Regions from separate parts of the Homo sapiens genome. Here region 2 is linked to region 1. Evidence: fine-mapped expression QTL. A gene starts in region 1. The other region holds a variant in brackets. All regions are shown on one strand. Distances are from middle to middle. Region 1 holds the start of PLCZ1 (phospholipase C zeta 1). Region 2 overlaps PIK3C2G (phosphatidylinositol-4-phosphate 3-kinase catalytic subunit type 2 gamma).

Evidence for each region. PIP is the estimated chance that this variant, and not a neighbour inherited with it, causes the effect.
Region 2: its variant is the best candidate, but not a certain one, in a credible set for the expression of PLCZ1 in sun-exposed skin (GTEx, PIP 0.64).

What each region holds. Positions count from the first base shown.
Region 1 is chr12:18,735,377-18,739,779 of GRCh38, forward strand. It overlaps PLCZ1 (phospholipase C zeta 1), which reads right to left and starts at 2,636. Exons shown (of 15, transcript NM_033123.4): 1 at 2,556-2,636; 2 at 1,985-2,133; 3 at 845-968. The coding sequence starts at 1,995. CAPZA3 (capping actin protein of muscle Z-line subunit alpha 3) reads left to right here and starts at 2,743. Exons shown (of 1, transcript NM_033328.3): 1 at 2,743-3,812. The coding sequence starts at 2,893. The coding sequence ends at 3,792.
Region 2 is chr12:18,641,020-18,645,422 of GRCh38, forward strand. All of the region lies in intron 32 of PIK3C2G (phosphatidylinositol-4-phosphate 3-kinase catalytic subunit type 2 gamma), which reads left to right. Among named protein-coding and RNA genes, the nearest start is that of PLCZ1, 95 kb to the right of the region's middle. The variant C/G (reference allele first, on the strand shown) is at 2,694.

The sequences.
Region 1 (4,403 bases):
CCTGGGCTTTTCTTCGTTGGGCAGTTTTTGATTACTGATTAAGTCTCCAAACAGGGTCTCACTATGTTACCCAGGCTGGTCTCAAACTCCTAGCCCCAAGTGATCCTCCCACCTTGGCCTCTCAAAGCATTGGGATTACAGGTACAAATCACTGCACACAGCCTCTCAGTCTCCTTTTTGTTATTGGTCTGTTTAACCTTTCTAGTTCTTCTTGGTTCAGTCTTGATGGGTTATATGGTTCTTGAAATTTCCCTTTTTTTTCTAGATTGTCCAATTTTATGGTGTATGATTGCTCTATGTGTTTTTCATTTTTGTGAGATCTGTTGTAATGTCTCCACTTTCATTTCTGATTTTATTTGACTCCTCTCTCTTTTTTCTTACTCTAAGTATTTGTCAATTTTATTTAACTTTTCAAAAAAACAAGTCTTAGTTTCCTCAATTTCTTCTAATTTTTTTCTTTTCTATTTTAGTTATTTCTGTGCTAATCTGTATTATTTCCTCCCTTCTGCTAACTTTGGGCTTATTCTCCACTCTTTTTATAAATCACTAACATCTAATACAGTTACCATTATCAGTCTGATATAATTAGACATCCAATCCTAGGTTTAATGTTAGCATTTCTGTATGCTCAGGAAATTATTCTAAACTGATATCCTGGTATTATTTCAGATTTTCTCAACAACTAATTTTACCTTCTACTGAAATGCTCTCCATCTTGATTGTAAATATAGTTAGTATAATTAATTGCTTTTCTTCTTAAGAGACTAACCTTTATATGACAATTACTGACATTGGATTAAGTTCCACCTAGGATAGGATAGGCAGGGGGTGGATGTCATCTTACCTTAAAAATCTGTTTCACATGAATATAACTGCACCGAATATCTAATTTTTCAAGTAACCTCTGAGTTTTTTCTAGGTTAATTTTTCCACCTCTGAAGTCATCCTGAATCTTTGACAAAAACCATGTAGAAGCACAAAAAAGTTAAGGAAATTCTCACAGAAAGTCATTGAATATTTAAAATTCCTAAAGAAACATTTGATTTACTGTATTATTTTTATTTTTAAAGAATATGTTTAAAGTAAATTATAGTATAATTGTATGATAAATATTTTTTAAAAAACAAAATTAAGTAGTTACTATGCTATGGTAAAGGTATGAAAGGGCATAGCACAGTAAAAATACAAAAAAAAGAATTAAAGTTAAAATTTGAGAATTGAAGTCATTACTTAGAACATACATTAAAACATTATAACAATCTATTGCCTGAAGGCATGAAGTTGGAAGGCAGCTAGACTTCAAGATCGCCTCTCACCTGACCTCTCTGTTTTAGTTCTCTCTTCCAGAAAGGTGAGCAAATTAACCCTGAATCTTAAGGAAAGTGGAAGCATTAGATGAATTCCTAATATGCCACCGAACACAGTTTCTGCTACTTAGTGTTCAATAAATAGTAACCATGACTGATAAAGTTATTATTACTACATTAGTCCAATGCCCAGCTACACACACACTCAAGACAGTACCATCAAAAAGCATCAGAAATACCATGGTGAGTGTATATTTGGTATGAAAAACGAAAAAAATTTTTAAAAGCTTACTTATCATAGATAAACTACAAAAACTAGGACACTTCCATTTGAAAAACTAAGATCGAAATGAGATAATGACAATTATCACTAAAATTATAAAAGGTATAGGTAAAAATTGTGCAAAACTACTAAGTTTCAGATTGTTAGAACGAATTAATGAGATCTCCTTAAATTTAATAGTTATGACTTAATCCAGCAAAGCTCATGTTCTTGTAAGAAAAAGATACCAGAATGCAGGGAAAGTTAGAAAAGCTCAGAACAAACAGGGAAAAGCAGTTCAACTTAAATGAAGAGGACTTAAATTCAGAACTCCTCGAAAAGAATAACAGCATCAAGTAAAGAGGATAAGTAGGAGAAAGAAGAAGAGGAGCAGAAAGAAGCTCTCAATGGATATCTCATTTCCATAGTTTCATGACCTGTAGAGCCGTTTCTCCTCACTTAGAAGTCTTTCCCCAGTAGGTGCTGTCATGGGTTCCAAATACAATTAACTCTGCCCCTTTGCAGAAAATAATTTCTTGATACTCATCAGCTGTTACCACTTTTCTAGGGAGAAAGCAGAGAACACACAGTGGTTTTTTTTGCCTTCGTTCTTTGAAGCTAGCTCACACTTAACCATAGAAACAGTATGCAAGATGTGGTACCTGCACTACCCTGCCCTTGAAACTGTTTGGCTTCTTACGTTCTGACCACCTCCAAACCCACAATATTTGAAAACACAGCTTTCCCTGATGTCTGGCATTTTTCCATGAACTGCCATTGTATCTCCTTTTATTTTTTACTACTTTGTTTAAACCCCTCAAACCTTTCATCATAATATGCTTCCAGTGGGTTTGGGCAGCTACTCTGAGAGCCTGAGTATAAATCAACACCATTGTGATTCCTGAAGTTGCAAAGTGCTGTCACTCTTGAAACTTTGGGCTGCTTCTCTAGATCGTTGACAACATATAATGCACACAGAGACACACCACTTTCGAAGAAGACTGTTCAGGAGGCTAAGTTCTTAAAATCTTCAAAAGAGGTATAGCTGGTTGGCTGGGCACCACACTGTCAGGTGACTGTCATTTTTTCCTTTTGGTCTGAATTCCCATTGTGATATCATCAGAGGTTCCACACTTCACAAGGAAAGCTTCTTATGACCTCATCAGGAGGCTCAGACCTTGCCAGACTGCCTGCTTTCATGGATAGACATAAAAACCTTCAGCTTGAATGTTAACACCTTGATGGGAAAGGTGGCTCATGGAATGTTTTCTTATCCTTTGAACACTCCTCATTTCAGAAGCTTTGCTTCTGTTGCAACCAAACATGACACTTAGCGTGCTGAGCAGGAAGGACAAGGAAAGAGTAATTCGCAGACTGTTATTACAGGCCCCTCCAGGGGAATTTGTAAATGCCTTTGATGATCTCTGTCTGCTTATCCGTGATGAAAAACTTATGCACCACCAAGGTGAGTGTGCAGGCCACCAACACTGCCAAAAATATTCTGTACCACTCTGCATCGATGGAAATCCAGTACTCTTGTCTCACCACAATGTAATGGGCGACTACCGATTTTTTGACCATCAAAGCAAACTTTCTTTCAAATATGACCTGCTTCAAAATCAGCTGAAAGACATCCAAAGTCATGGTATCATTCAGAATGAGGCAGAATACCTGAGAGTTGTTCTTCTGTGCGCCTTAAAACTGTATGTGAATGACCACTATCCAAAAGGAAATTGCAACATGCTGAGAAAAACTGTCAAAAGTAAGGAGTACTTGATAGCTTGCATTGAAGATCACAACTATGAAACAGGAGAGTGCTGGAACGGACTTTGGAAATCTAAATGGATTTTCCAAGTTAACCCATTTCTAACCCAAGTAACGGGAAGAATATTTGTGCAAGCTCACTTCTTCAGGTGTGTCAACCTTCATATTGAAATATCCAAGGACCTGAAAGAAAGCTTGGAAATAGTTAACCAAGCTCAACTGGCTCTAAGTTTTGCAAGGCTTGTGGAAGAGCAAGAGAACAAATTTCAAGCTGCAGTCTTGGAAGAATTACAGGAGTTATCCAATGAAGCCCTGAGAAAAATTCTACGAAGGGATCTTCCAGTGACCCGCACTCTTATTGACTGGCACAGGATACTCTCTGACTTGAATCTGGTGATGTATCCTAAATTAGGATATGTCATTTATTCAAGAAGTGTGTTGTGCAACTGGATAATATAAAGAATTGCTCCTGGTAACTATCTTGATTTGACTTGTTTGTGTTTCTTGGGAATGGTTATTTTCCTAAAATTGAGCAATCTGTAGAGATGTCTCTCACTTAGCCAATGCAAATTTAAATGGGAAAAGTGTAGCAAGTAATTTTACTTGGGGAATATTTATGAACAAGGCAAGAAAGTGTAAAGTAACTGTGTTTCATGGTGGTGACCATCATAAAGACCAAGACATTTGTTAGAAACTAAAATAGTTTTATAGAATCTGGGATTCCAGAAATAGTATAGAGGTGGCCAGGGTTAAGGCTGTGTGTGGGTGTGTACGTGTGTGTGTGTGTGTGTGTGTGTGTGTGTGAGAGAGAGAGAGAGAGAGAGAGAGAGACTTTTGACTGTTTCGAACTGAAAAGGTATACAAATGAATATCACTCCACAAATGATATTTTACATAACTCAATTCAGTCCTAGACCATCCACGAGATGGGGAATTTCAATAAAAGACATTAGGTTTGGATTTTCCACAAAACCAACAGATATCAAAAATCTAGCTCAGATGAAGGACTATTAGTAATTTTGGCTCCTCTTCCACTCTACTTTCTTCCCCTCAAGAATTGGGGTTACTCA
Region 2 (4,403 bases), 94 kb before region 1:
TGCAATTCCCTAACTTCTTTCTAAGGCAAGCCCCTACATTTATTCTCTTGATTCCATCCTTTCCCATCTCCTCTGCACCTTGCTCAGCTGCTTATTTGTGTTCCTTTTCTTATGGCTGTCTCATCCACAGGATCCTCCACTCAGAAATATTAAAAAACAAAAACAAAAACTCCCCAACTCAGGCTTGCTAAGCAAATTTTCTTTCCCTCACTATCACCTCCAAACTTATCCAAAATTAACCCACATGATCTGCTTTCCCTTCATCTCTCCCTTTCACCCTTGAATGCTTTGCAATGTGGATTCTGACCTTTATTGATAGTACTTTATTCAAGGGGCATCAATAGACTCCTAACTGCTAAATCCAAAGAGCCCTCAGGCTCTCGTGCCTGGATCAGTTATACAGCAGCACTACTGACCACAGCCCCATTCCTGAAACCTCCGTTTTGCTTTTTGAGTTGTACCTTTTCTTAATTCTCTTCCATTTTCTCTACCACTTATTTCTCTACCACTTATTTCCATTTCTCTACCACCTCTCTCATTTTCCTTCATTGTTATTCTTTCTCTTAAAATATTATTGTTTACTGAAGTCACATGATCCATCCTCATCTCCTCTTCCTGTACATACTCTCACATTTATCTTGTGGATCAACAAAGTTTTATTTATCACCTATAGGTAGGTTGCATCTGAATTTACTCCTAAAACCCTGGCTTCTCTCTCTCAAGCTTTTTTTTTTTTTTTTTTTTGAGATGGAGCCCTTCACTCTGTGTCTAGCAGGCTGGAGTGCAGTGGCGCAATCTCAGCTCACCACAACCTCCACCTCCCAGATTCAAGCAATTCTCCTGTTTAAGCCACCCGAGTAACTGAGATTACAAGCTCCCACCACCACATCCAGCTAATTTTTGTATTTTTAGCAGAGACGGGGTTTTGCCGTGTTGGTCAGGCTGGTCTCAAACTCCTGACCTCAGGTGATCCACCGCCTCAGCCTCCCAAAATGTTGGGATTACAGGCGTGAGCCACCATGCCCGGCCTCTGTCACACTTCTACCTGATTACTGGGGAGCTCCATCTGAATGTCTCATAGGCACTTTTAGACCAGGCTTTCCTCCATTCATTCTTTCTTTTATAGATGGTACCTTTGGGGTCGAAACTAAGAAACTCTTTGTCTAGCACTGAGTCTCAAAGATTTTCTCTTATAGTTTTTTCTAAAAGTTGTATAGCTTTACATTTTACATTTAAGTACATTACCCATTTTGAGTTAAATTTTTAATAAAATGTGATGTTTAAGTCAAGGCTCTTTATTTCCCCACTGTGGATACCAATTATTCCAGTACTATTTGTTGAAAAGGCAATTCTTCCTCCACTGAATTTCTTTTGCACGTTTGTCAAAAATCACTTGGGAATATTTGTGTTCTTATACTCTTTTTGTTATCCCATACTTAGCCATATTTTCAGATCACATCAGACAGCTTGTCATTCCCTGAATGGACTGTAGGATTTTGTGATAGAACTCATGCCACCATTCACCTCTCTCTGCCCTTCTCTGCCTGCTTTGAGACTGACCTCAGATGTGAACTCTGCAAACACTGTCACCTCGTGGACTCACACCACACTTATAATCCTTTCTTTAGTCCTACACGGTTTTTCTTCTAGTATATCATAAACTTCTCCAGGGCGGGTTAAATGTCTTATCCTTTTTAATACTTTTAACACTTAGTTACCTCTAAAATGATGTGTAATAAATATTCGGGGCAGTTTTATAAGTGACACTGTGTGTGTGTGTGTGTGTGTGTGTGTGTGTGTGTGTATAAAATGTAAATACATGTATATACTGCATATATATATAGAGAGAGAGAGATTCTCTAAACTGGTAAGGAAAAATATTTTGACACTATTATTTGTCATGATGTCAACAGTGAGAAGCATACACTTCCCAACAATATATCACTGTTTCTTTTCATACTTTTTGAGTACAAGTCTCCATGCCTCACTATCAAGAAACTTCTCAGACCCTGTGTTAGGCATAAGCATTTTCAGTATAAGAAAACATATAATAACAAGAAACCACTAACAATTCAGAACAATTTAAATAAACTTGTGTTTTATTTCAAGCTTTATGTATTATAAGAAAACAGTAGTAAATTATATTCATGGAAAATTATTTTATAATTCTTGCTGTGCACATAACTTTTCTGAGGGCTTGCAATACCTAGGTCCTCACACATCCATAACCCACTGATTAAAACTCACTACAAATCTTTCTCAATTGATCTATACTTGTAGCATGAATAGACACTTTATACTTTGGACACATTTTAAATTGCTTCGAAAGCCATGGTCCATGCATAGCCAATTCCGATGAGAACATAGTCCAATCAAGCAGAAATTTGAAGTAGTGTGTGTATAAGTGATGATTTTAGTAGTAGTCATTAGGACAGTAAGAGGTTTCTAATCATATAAACAATTCTGGCAAAGAAGCTGGGTGAATTCCAAGAGCCAAAAGGAAAAAAAGGCAACAACGGTTAATTTAATTTTTTTCATTCTATGCCTGTATCAACACAACAAGAATATTTATAAGAAATGCAAAGAAGCACACTAGATGTTAACTCTGATTTTACTGTCTCTTGCCCTCAGTTGTGATGTAGGATCCCATCTTTGTGTCAAACTCCTCGATCACTTGTGTGCAACCTCAAGAG[C/G]ACCTTACTAGATGTCTTTACCAATAAGCCCAGTGCTTACTAGAGAGCCCAGTGAGTTATCACAGGGCATCTACCTTGTTTTAAACTTTTCCTCCACTTCCGCCGCCTCACTGAGTACTGCTGCATCAACCACTCACCACAGCTGGGATTTCTCAAACTGTAAAAGCCGTGTACTGTTCTTGAAGTGGGAGAGGATGACCTCACTCTCCTCTTTATATAAATCTCTCAGAGGAGTACAAAGAAGATATTACACTGCATACCAATGTCTTACAAAGCCTTTTGTGAAAATAGTTCTTTTTATTTTTATTCCTATCCTCCTTTCTCCTTAATATCCAGAGATGAGAGGGGCTGGGTCGGGGACACAGAAAAGTGACAGAGTCTCCACCCTTCCCATACTAAGGCTTTGATGCAGGGCCAAGCTTGTCTATTTGACACTTCGCAGAGTGAGCCCCAATAGGCTTCATCAGCAGTCTCCCTGAAAACCCCTGTCATGTACAAATCCCAGTGATAGGCATGGCTGGTCTCAAGATGGGTCTGGGGCTGGGGGTGTGAGTGCTCAGGGAACTGCCATACAGCTTGAAGAAGCAGAGGTGGGATTCCGGGCTCCAAAGCCTCTTTCCACGCCACTACTTTTGCCATCTTCTTAAAAACCATCATTTTTCACACAATTCATTAGAAATACAGAATTTCTACCCTATGACAGAATTACATGCTTATAATCAATATATTTTGTATATTGTAACCTTTTCTTATATATTATTCTGTTGTAAGGTGTAAAGGGAAAATTAGAAAGAACAGAACAGGAACGTTCTATGCATTTTACATCCCTTAAAATCTCCTGCAGAATATACAGTGATTACTTAGCACAATGCCAAGTATATGGCACACTCAGTAAGCTATAGTTATTGTTATCTGTGTTATAATATTATTGCAATTTCAACATGATGAAAATTGTATTTGTAAGTGAAGACAATGTGACCCAGAGGTTACACAACTAGATGTCAAGCCCAGAACTGCCTGATTCCAAAGCTCATGGTTACCGCACTACACTATGCTGTTATTCCTACCTGTCTCCTCCCACGCAGTACCCCTGTTCTCGCTTTTGAACTCTTTCTTTCATTATCCTGCCTCCTCTACCACTTCCCACAAGCACTAGAGACACTTCAGTTCCTATCTTATTGTCCTCTCATTTCAATCATGAAAATACACTTTAGAATTATTTACTAGACCCTTGTGTCAACTAATGTTCAGTAAATTCTTGGAATGTTCAGTATATGTTAATAGATATTAATTACCTTAAGTGTTTTCTATTAGACGTAATAATTCCAAACCCACACATTTAGTTATTTGTCAGAAGGTAGTAAAGACTTAACTCATGCCTATAGGTAAAAATTATTAGAAAAAGAAATTAAAAGAGCTATTTATTTTTGGTTCTGAGTATGTACCAGAACCATTTTTTTTTGTTCTGAGTATGCAGAATATATATTAAATCCTTTGACGAAAAGGTCTCAAAGAATATAATCATCTCTGTACTTCGCTAACATTAGCCACTAATTATTCTTTGCTCAGTTGAAAAGAGTACTTACTATTTAACAACATCATGGATGCACCAAAGCAATCAGAATAGATATTTATCATCTATAATGTGCAATGATTACAGGTTTATAAAACTTCAGTCACTTTTAAGAAAATAACTTTTCTTAATGAAGC